Regions from separate parts of the Homo sapiens genome. Here region 2 is linked to region 1. The links come from fine-mapping of genetic effects on gene expression. A gene starts in region 1. The other region holds a variant in brackets. All regions are shown on one strand. Distances are from middle to middle. Region 1 holds the start of TRAT1 (T cell receptor associated transmembrane adaptor 1). Region 2 has its middle 38 kb from the start of TRAT1.

Evidence for each region. PIP is the estimated chance that this variant, and not a neighbour inherited with it, causes the effect.
Region 2: its variant is fine-mapped to the expression of TRAT1 in whole blood (INTERVAL, PIP 0.90).

The regions. Positions count from the first base shown.
Region 1 is chr3:108,820,229-108,825,540 of GRCh38, reverse strand. TRAT1 (T cell receptor associated transmembrane adaptor 1) reads right to left here and starts at 2,755. Exons shown (of 6, transcript NM_016388.4): 1 at 2,607-2,755. The coding sequence starts at 2,613.
Region 2 is chr3:108,858,203-108,863,591 of GRCh38, reverse strand. No RefSeq gene overlaps it. Among named protein-coding and RNA genes, the nearest start is that of TRAT1, 38 kb to the right of the region's middle. The variant G/C (reference allele first, on the strand shown) is at 2,486.

The DNA of each region.
Region 1 (5,312 bases):
ATTTACACGTTAGTCCCACCTAGTCTCTAAAAGAAAGGATTTCATTGTCCTCAAAAGGTGATGAGGCTCAAGAGAAGATAAAACTGAGTAAAGACAATGAGACTCCTTTTTTTTAAAAAAAATGAAGATGAGTAAACTAAATTGTGAATCATTATTTAAATTAATGATAGACCAAAGACTTGTTTTCACCATTTGATTCCATTAATACAGATTTTATGTAAATGCAGAAACACAGCAGGAATTATGATACCAGAACATTATGGATGATGCAGTGACTACAGGCATATAGGTAGGAAAAAAGAAAATACTTGGGTTTTTGTTTTCATACGTAGTTTTACTTAACTAGAAATAATTATTCTTTTGTGTGTGTTCAAATTTATTTTATTTTTTATTTTACCTATCTAAATATAAAAAATACTATCATCTGATTCTCTTCCTTCATGTGAAATTTTGTTTTGTTTTGACTTTTAATACCTGTGAGGTTTTTAAATACTTTGTCTTTGCATCTCTTCTGTGAAATTGTAAAAGTTCTCAACTGTTGATGTAGGAGCTCCTGTATTAAACCCAAAGGGGAAGTCTGAACTACAAAATGCGATGGAGGAAATGTTACCATATCTGTTCTAAATTTAGAATTAATTAGTCCTGAAAATAGAGGAATGTCATATTCACCGTCTTTGGTCTTCCCATGCTTTCTGAGTTCCCCATCATCATCAGCTCATGGAATTATACTTAGTAATGCTATGTTCATTTCTTGCAGGGCACTAGAAAAATTGGGACACTTGTTTTTGTTCTTTGCTAAAGTATGAACTGGGAAAGATAAGGAGAGGTATGAAAATTGTATGCCAGCTTATGGTCCCTGTGTGATTTATGTAATCAATTGGTTTTAAGATCCATCAAACAGAACAATGGAAGCCAATTCACAGAAATTATAATATATGCAATCTTTACTCCATAGCTGGCCTATACAAATTGGTATTAAAAGTACAAAGCATACTAATTAAGCAAAAGAGGTCATCAGACTATCACAAATGATAGCTATAAACAGTTTAAAAATCCATGCAAAAATGTTCAACCTCATTATAATCAAAGTAATGCATATTGAACAATGAGTTAGCATGTTGTGCTTATGAGATTAGTGACGATTTTTTAAAGGAGATCAGCCTGTGAAGGAGAAGCACTGCTAGAATGAGAGGGAATTGGCATCACTCTTGGAAAAGCAATTTGGCAATAATGAGACTTAAAATGCCATAATCTCTTAATAATTTCAGTTCTAGAAAGTTTTCTGAAAAAATAACCCTTACTACAGAAAAAGCTATAGAGTTGTTCATCTTTCTGTCATGTAAAAATATTTTTAAAAACTGTATACAACAGGGCTGGGCGCAGTGGCTCACGCCTGTAATCTCAGCACTTTGGGAGGCCAAGGCGGGCGGATCATGAGGTCAAGAGATCGAGACCATCCTGGCCAACATAATGAAACCCTGTCTCTATTAGAAATACAAAAATTAGCCAGGCGTGGTGGCACGCGCCTGTAGTCCCAGATACTCAGGAGGTTGAGGCAGGAGAATCGCTTGAACCTGGGAGGCAGAGGTTGCAGTGAGCCAAGATTGCGCCACTGCACTCCTGCCTGGCAACAAAGAGAGACTCTGTCTCAAAAAAAAACAAACAAAAAAAACTGTATACAACATAAATGTTCAGCAATAAACAAATGACTAAACTATAACTGAATAGATATCATTTTTGTGCATTCATTTAAAATGATTATGCAGAAGTTATATTAAAAGGGACATGGTTATGTTAGTGAAAAAAGCTGGATATATTATGTACATTATTATTTCAGTTATGAAAAGCAAACTATATAGAATGTATATAAATAAAATTTGAAAGGAAATAAAACATATTTTGTGTTTTTAAGGTGATGGAAAATACGTATGAATTTTTAATATATATATTTCACAGTTCTCCCACATTACATAATATGCATGTTTCCTTTTGCAACAAAAAGATGTTTATTTAATAAATTAAAAGTACATAAAATAATACAGGAGGAATGAACCATCAACATGGATTCATAACAGTGAGTCAATATGGATCCAACCCTTTCACAACAGCGAGTGAATATGGATCTAACCCTCATGATTAATCTCACAGCAATTGAATTTTCACTGGCCTTTTCAAAATTGTTGTCTCTCTGAATGTTGACAATTGCATTGCTTTCTAGAAAATACTATAGTGCCTAATCTCTGAGGAATTAGAATTACACTTATCCTGTTTAATAGCTAAACTAAACTAAAGAGGAATACACATAGTCAACAAAAGCTTCTTTAAAAATAACAAGTACTTCACATGGCATAATTATCAGTGAACACTTACTGAACAGCTGTAATTAGATTTACGTTCTAAAATGCTGTCCACATTTTTCTTTCAAAAGAAAAATGTCAACTTATACTCATTAACATGTTTCAAAATATATTTTAATTACACTAAAAGTTATCCAACATTTTTAAAATAACTACTTTCTAAATACTAAGGGTCTTCTCGTTAGGACTTAGAAATTAAGTGAATTTTTAGACACACAAATGGAACAAAAAGTTTAAAATGCCACTTACCTGACATGCTTCTTTTTTTCAGAGAAATCTTTATCTAGCCATAAGACAAATATATGGATTAAAAATCCTCCTACAAACTTTTTTCCTAGGTGATGTTGCTCTGTTATGTTAAAAGCAGCATGACAGTAAAACTTATCTTTATCTGTGCCTCGGATTCTTTTCTCTTCTGTTTCTTAAAATCTTTTGTGTGTACTTTGTTTCAGTTACAAACAGGAAATGTGGTGAAGGAGTTGTCTTGAGTTTTGATCTGAAAACAGTCGACTTAAATTGTGTAACGTGGGAAGAAAAATCCCACACACCTTTGTAATCTGACATTTGAATTTTTATCAATACCTGAGTCTAATTGAAAAATAAATAAATAAAGGTAGGAATTAAACCAGGAGGGATCTTCCTATCTCTGGAGAGAATCCAGTCATCTCTTCACAAGTAAATTCACATGGAAACAAAATAAGATACACTAAACTGATGAGTAAATAGTAAGCAACCCGTGGGTGTGCTCAGCTGTTGTATTTTCTTGAGCCATGATGGAGGACAGGGAGTTAATATTTTTTGAGCACTTAGTATGTATCAGTTGCCTTCTATACCTCATCTTAATGCGAGGCTAGATGCCTGCCTTATTTCCTGACAATCCTCACCTTATCAGTATGAGTTTCTCTGTCCAATCTAGAGCCACCTGACAACAAGCTCCTGTTCTCAACCACCATCCCAGAATCTTAATAGCAGCAGTTCTTACATGTTGGTGTACATAAGTATGCTATAAGATGCTAGTTTAAAATCCTGGGCCCGTCTAAATTAGACTATTTAGGGTGAAGCACTAGAATCTGCATTTTAACAAGCAGATTTTCTGAGTGCATTTTAAATTACATATATTGTATATGATAAGATATTTTAATATAGATGTTCTGGACAATGCTTTTGGAAACTCATATAAGGAATAGAATCTATATTATTCATTATTAAAATTTCATAACTAGAATTAAGCACACCGGCACATCGTAAGTCTCAATAATTGAGACTTACTCTCAGTGATTGAACAAACAAAACCATGGGTGTCTTGTGCTTTCTTTGTCTTCCATTATAGAAAATAACTCCCTAGTAAGCAAAATACAGTGCATCTTATCCTTTGGACAAAGCTGGCTAAACACTAACACATTTTTCCACTTCAATCACTCCCCCCCAAAATATTTTTTGGTGAATCGTTGACTCAGAGGCTGTAAAACTGAAAGAGACCTTGGAGATTCTCTGGTCTAAGCTTCTTTAAAAGGGATTTTTAAAGTATGTTCCATAGAACACTCGGCCTTTAAGAAACGCAGAAGACAAATGTTTCTTCAACAAATATCTTTGGAAAAAATATATAGCTTTATTTTTACCTCCGTAGATGCATATTAAAGGCTTAGGTAAGTCCTGCGAAAAGGAAACCCAAATAATATTTTTATCAGAGTTTTTCTAAACTTATTTGGCCAGAGGACTCTTTGTTCAGCCGCTAACCATTAGCAGAGTGACAGGTTTTATGAAGCAGGCCTGGATGCTGACAGAACAAGACTTCAGGGAACAGCAGCCTCAGGTTCATGTAGGGATCAGAGGACAACAAAGAATCAGAAGGTTTCATCTTAGAATTAGATGGAACGTAGGGAGGAAGACTGCTGAAAAGTTGAATCCCAGACATTCAGGAAGATTCGGGCACCTGATAAATCAGTTTGAGAGGAGAGGGCCTAGTTATGGCCTTGAGGAGTTGAGCTTTGGTCCTGAAAGAGGGTAACTGGTAAGAAAAGTAGAAGTCCTAGGCTCAAGAAAGGACTACAGAGGTTACCTAAGCAAGACCTTGGAATATGGGCAAAGTAGATGCCCACAACTCGAGCTTACAGAGGACATTGGAAAGAGAAAGGGTTTCAGGACTGGAAATTTTGGTGCTAGCATTCCTTTGTTAGAACAAAATTATCGCAGAGGATGGGGAAAGAAGGAAGGAAGATGCTTTCATCCCAGCTGATCCATAAAGTGCAATTCCAGAAAAAACGGTGTTTAATTATTATTGGCTGTGAATGGAGAGAAGGTCAACTCAGCAAGAATGACTCAGGCAAAAATGCAGGAACTCTGTGGTTTGCTCAGAAGTATCTCTCAGAGCAGCCCAACAGGAAGAGAGACCCAAAGCAAACCCACCTGTTGGGAGAGCAGCTGTCTAAGGGCTTCCCTGCCTCAAGGGTATGACTTTACCCATACAGCTGCAGGAAGCTGGGGAAGGCAAGAGCAGAAGAGACATTAGGAAGGATATGTCCTGCTTCAGAAAGAGCCTGAAGTACCTGTTGAGTGATTACCTTATGGCTTAAAAGGGTTAATGTACCTCCTATGCATGATTGACATCTCTAAATGGTAAAAACTTAGGCTAATAAATCTGAACCACTTCACAGTTTCTAATTATTACAATATTTTTGAAAAGTGATCTTCATTACAATGTTCCATTCCATAGATTTAAATAATCTACGGAGATGTAACAAGATTGTCCAAGGTCACACAGGAAGTCCGTGCCTGCACATTAGTTAGCTCCATAGATGTTTGAAATTTGCCAGGAAAAAAAAAATAGCTTTTCATTAAATATAGATGGCTGAGCACATGGAAACATTATCAGAATATAAAAAAGCATATGGATATTTATTTGTTATAAAATATATTAGAAAGTGCATTCAGAGATTTGAATGATGGCTTCATGAG
Region 2 (5,389 bases), 38 kb before region 1:
GCTCCAATAGAAAACTTATGAGTCAGAATCACTGAAGTATGTGACTCACATATGTATGCTTTATAAAATCCCCTGGTGATTTTTTACTTCTCATTGAAGTTTGAGAACAATTGGTCTAAGCAATGAAAATCAGTAGGGGTTTTTTAAAAGAGGAGGGAAATAATCTGAGCTATGTCTTAGACACACTCTGAGAGTAAGCAGAAGACTTGGGGAAGAGAGATAAATCACAAGTCTATTGTAGTAAGTCAGGTGAAAGATGCCATGAGCCTGGATGAGGGAAAAAGAAAAATGAAATGGGATATAGTAACAAAATCCACAGGCCTTTGTCCCTTAATTGGGTAAGAGGCAAGGGTGAGGGCTGAGTAAACTGCCCCAAGTGATTTTGGTTGTATTCTCCCATCTCTCTGCTCAGTCTCTTGGTTCTGGCTTCATCCTCAGAGTAGTAACAAGATGACTGCAGCAGTTCTGGGTGTCATATCAGATGCAAAAGTGCTCAGATAGGTGATGAGAAACCATTTCTTCCTGTGGCTCTGTTACAATACCCTTGAACTAATTATGCCCCACCTTGATTTCCTTTTCTCACCTGGGGAACGGCTCGATTTCCTGTGAGACACGTGGCTGAATGAGGGTGGGGAAAGTGCATATGCAAAACCGGGGACTGTTGTTGATAGCCCCAAACACCGACTGGGCACTGGGTTGGCCATTACACTGGAATAGTGACTAGCACATAGTGGGCTTACACAAATTTTTGTAGGAAGAATGCCTTACAGGGTCATTTTGAAAATAACAGCTCCTTGCATTTTGCCTACTTCTCCATTTTACTACCTCAGCTGCCCCTTCTTATAATAGCTTGTTAGGTAGATTTAAATAGATATTGTTCCCGATAAATTAGCTAGACCCTTCATCTCTGTGTTAAAAAAAAGTTGCAGTCATAGGCTTTAACTTTTCCATTATGCCTGTCAGAAAAAAAGAAAGTGCCAGTGATTATTTTTTTGTATGACCTAGTAATCTTTCAAGCATTTATATTGTTTAAAAACACTGAGGTGGCCGGGTATGGTGACTCACACTTGTAATCCCAGAAGTTTGGGAGGCTGAGGTGGGTGGATCATTTGAGGTCAGGAGTTCGAGACCAGCCTGACCAACATGGTGAAACCCCATCTCTACTAGAAATACAAAAAAAATTAGCAGGGCATGGTGGAGGATGTCTGTAGCCCCAGCTACTTGGGAGGCTGAGGCAGGAGAATCGCTTGAACCTGGGAGGTGGAGGTTGCAGTGAGCTGAGATTGTGCCACTGCACCCCAGCCTGGGTGACAGAGCGATACTCCATCTCAAAAACAAACAAACAAACAAACAAGCACTGAGGTGTCAATTATAATATTACAAGGGCAAGTAAGATAACCAATCAGAATTGCACGTTTCTTCTGGTTATTATCACAGGGCATTGCAACAAACTAGTCTTCAAAGTCTTAGAAGAATCTCTTCTAACCATACTTCCAAGGACAAATTTATATTAACAGAGAATAGAAGAAGTTGGCAACAGTTATGAATATTCACACAAGTCTCCTTGTTGCACAGAAGCAAGATTGATATTCTTGTGAATGTTCTTAATTTAATACCTTATCACATCAGACTATTTGAATTTATTTTATGATGCAGAAAGCTCTATCTTGTAACTTCAGGAGAGAGGGGACATCTCTTCATCTTTTTTAGCCACCTATTGTTGATTGTGAAGACTTGCATTTTTTAAGGCCAGGCTTAGGAACTTCATTACTTAGCATAAGAAGTGAAAAGCAGGCCTAAGACTTCATTTTTATTTGCAGAAATGGAATAAAGGATGAATAGGATTTTACTTAGTGAGAGAAGGAGTGTGTGGCATTAATCTACCACATTCTGATTTTGCTAATGAGGAATATGCTAATGTCACAAGAGTGGCAAAATTGACAAGAAGATGTCAACAAGCACAAGAAAAGGTCTTTCTTTCTTAAGGTAATCAAAGGTTTAGACACTTAGAGAGCAGGGGACACTGCAGCACTTCTGTCCAGAGAAACAAGTTTCCCTGCTCTCCTAAATCCCCTGCAACAAGAGGCTGCAGCTCCTGCCTCCCAATTAGAATCTGACTGTTCCACTTCTTTGTTCTTTTTCCCAAACCAGTACTTAGCATTAAACTCTGCAGACGGCTTTATTTGTCTATTGCTGGAACCTTGTCTTCTAAGGCCTGCTGAGGTTGAATAAATTAGATCAAACTGATACTAACTTGGTAATTGATACCAAGTTAGCGACAGTAAGTAATATTGCCCTTAACAATTTGATAGTAGGATTTAGACAGCAAGATGAAGTGTAAATAGCCAAGGGATGGTTGGTCTTTTAAAAATAGGTTAATATTTATTTAAAATATCTGCATATGTCTTATCCATTTTCTAATTGATCTCCTTAAGTTACAATTTTATTCTTTCAACTATTTCTTCTGAACTTGTGAATATAGTAA[G/C]CAATAATTGTATACAAATTTAATTTCTCATAGTTACAGATAAAATATCCTAAATTTTAATGGAGAGGAAACAATTTAATGCATATGTGAGAATTTTTCATATTAATCTTACAGGAAACTGGCTTTTCTTTCATCTCTACAAATGTTCTGAGTGGTTTGGAGCAGATTCGGTACATGGAAAAGTATTAGGTTGGTGCAAAAGTAATTGTGGTCTTTCTATTACTTTCTTTTTTTTTTTTTTGAGATGGAGTCTTGCTCTGTTACCCAGGTTGGAGTGCAGTGGCGCAGTCTTAACTCACTACAACCTCTGCCTCCCAGGTTCAAGTGATTCTCCTGCCTCAGCCTCCTGAGTAGCTGCGATTACAGGCGTGTGCCACCATGTCTGGCTAATTTTTGTATTTTTAGTAGAGACGGGGTTTCACCATGTTGGTCAGGCTGGTCTCGAACTCCTGACCTCGTGATCCGCCTGCCTCGGTCCCCCAAAGTGCTGGGATTATAGGTGTGAGCCACCGCGCCTGGCCTGTCCATTACTTTTAATGGCAAAGACCACAGTTACTTTTGCACCAACGTAATACCAGTGAATTTCATTCTGCCAACCCCACTTCACCCCAAATGACATCATTTTAGTACTCCTTACTACCTCTTTAAAAGAAGTTAGGTGAAAAATGAAATCAAGATATTTTGGGGTATATTAGTTAGATTAGGTCCACCTGTGAATAACAGAAATCTCAAAACAACAATGGCTTAAGTAAAACAGAAATTTATCTCTCACATTAAAGAAGGCTGGAGATAGGTGGTCTAAGGCTGGGATGCTGTTCCATGTGTTAGGAATTTAGCTCTTTTTATCCTATTTCTCTGTCATCTTCAGCCCATGCAGTCTATCCTGTGATCAAATGTTGCTATTCAGACTTCAGCCACCACATCTTTATTCCAGCTACAGGTAATGAGGAGCCAAAGAAAGGCAACACAAGCTACAGAGGGAACATTGTTCCAGCAGCCGTGCATCTGGTATTAAAGTGAAAAATGAGCCAAAGTTAAACAAGCAAGAGAGACTTTATTCAAGACTATTGCAATACAGGAGAGAGGTTGAACTCAACTCAGCCTCTGAGTTCAGGGTGAAACAAAAGGCTGGAGAGTTTTTAAGAGCTGGGGTGGGGGTAACGGTAGGCCACCTGTGCTTAATTCTGACCTATCTCCATGACGGAAGGTAGGCTTTTGCCCTCCCACAGACTGGAGGATAAAGGCATTATCTTCCTTCAGAAATTACATTTCAAAGAGATGGTTTTCAGGTTTTTGAGAGAGACATTTCTGGGGGTAATCAAATAGGTAAAAGCTTTTTGAGGAGACATACACACTTGAAAGGGAGCCAAAAAAGAATTTGCAATGATGAGTTTGTTTTTTAAGTAAATAGGAAAACGGACAGGAAGAAATCTGTCTGAAGTTTAGTTAACTTGAGAAGTTAATGCTGTCTTGATCACCAGTTAAAAGTAAAGATTCTGTACTTAGGAAAAATGGGAGAATGGAAATTGGAGAAAAACTGATTTGCCCCAGTTTTCTTAAGTTTTTTTTCTTTCTCAATACTTTGTAGAAAGACTAAAAAGTAGAGTATTTAATTTAAAAATTAATTTTTCAAATGGTAGAATTTTTGGGTACCACTACTGCTTGTGTGGTTAAAAAAAAAAAGACAAAATAGAACAGCAAAGGATGTGGGAGACTCTTCCATTGTTCTAATAATTCATCCTGTAAAGTTAACTTGGGTTTGTAAAATAGAGGCATTGTTAACTGACCTCTACCTATGTGAGCCATTTTCCCTTCCTTCTATCAACATACTGAATCCTGACCCAGCACAATAAACACCATGGCCAGTAGACTATTCTTATAACCTCCTGAGTCTCTCCCACCACCAAAACTGTGTTTCCCAGGAGTGCATGGTGTTTGTTCCTGCACTTGATTATTTTGGCTGTACTTGTAATTACATAAGATAATTGTTATGTGTCCTAATGAAATATGGGTGTGGAGGGAACTTTTCCTATGATAGTTAAGTTCACTGATTCCAAAGAATCAATAAACCGAATTGCTAAAAAAAAATTACTGACAATTTAGGTAAGGGTGAAATAACTCTTAAAGTCTCGGAAGAAAAACCAAAAATCTTGAGGGATGCTGCAGTTAGATTTCATTAGAAATGTTTTCAAGTTCTCATTTCACTTAAAAACAAAACCAAAACTGGGACCATAGACAGTGTTTTATGGACAATGATATTTATACAAGAAAAATGACATGAAACTTCAATCATAGACCTACTCAAAGTAAGGCCTTGGCCCTATATCAAAAGTTAATGACTAAATGTTTATACGTTTTAAATTTAAATGTTTATGGTACTTTAAAAATTTATTCCTCACTTGACCCAATTTTTCCAGTTAATTTACCAAGTATGTTCTTAATCAATGCAGATGGAAGAAATAAACCTACTTAATTCTCAAGTGTTATGATGGTTACTGACATCTTTAAAGACTTGTCCATTACATCAGAGGTGGCCAAGAACGCTATTGATTGAGATTCTTTTTCCATTCTCTTCCATTTTGGTCTAAATAACAAATGTTTCCCTGATTCCAAATGAGATAACTTTCATCCCCTACAGAAAAAATTAGACAAAAGGGGGCACAAAATTATGTTTTAGCTTCAATATCGGGATTTATTTATTTTTGTTTTTGTAAGTTAGTTTTGGGTTCTGTCTCTTATGGAGAGTGAATATGAGGTCACTGCAGGGAAAACCTCTTTTTTTATACACAAAACTGAAAAAGAAAAGCTAAGTCATTTTAAAGCAAGTGGCATTAATAAAATACTTTCCTGTAAAAACACTTTAATATGAAAATATTGTGGTAGATGTAAGTCTTAGTGTTTATT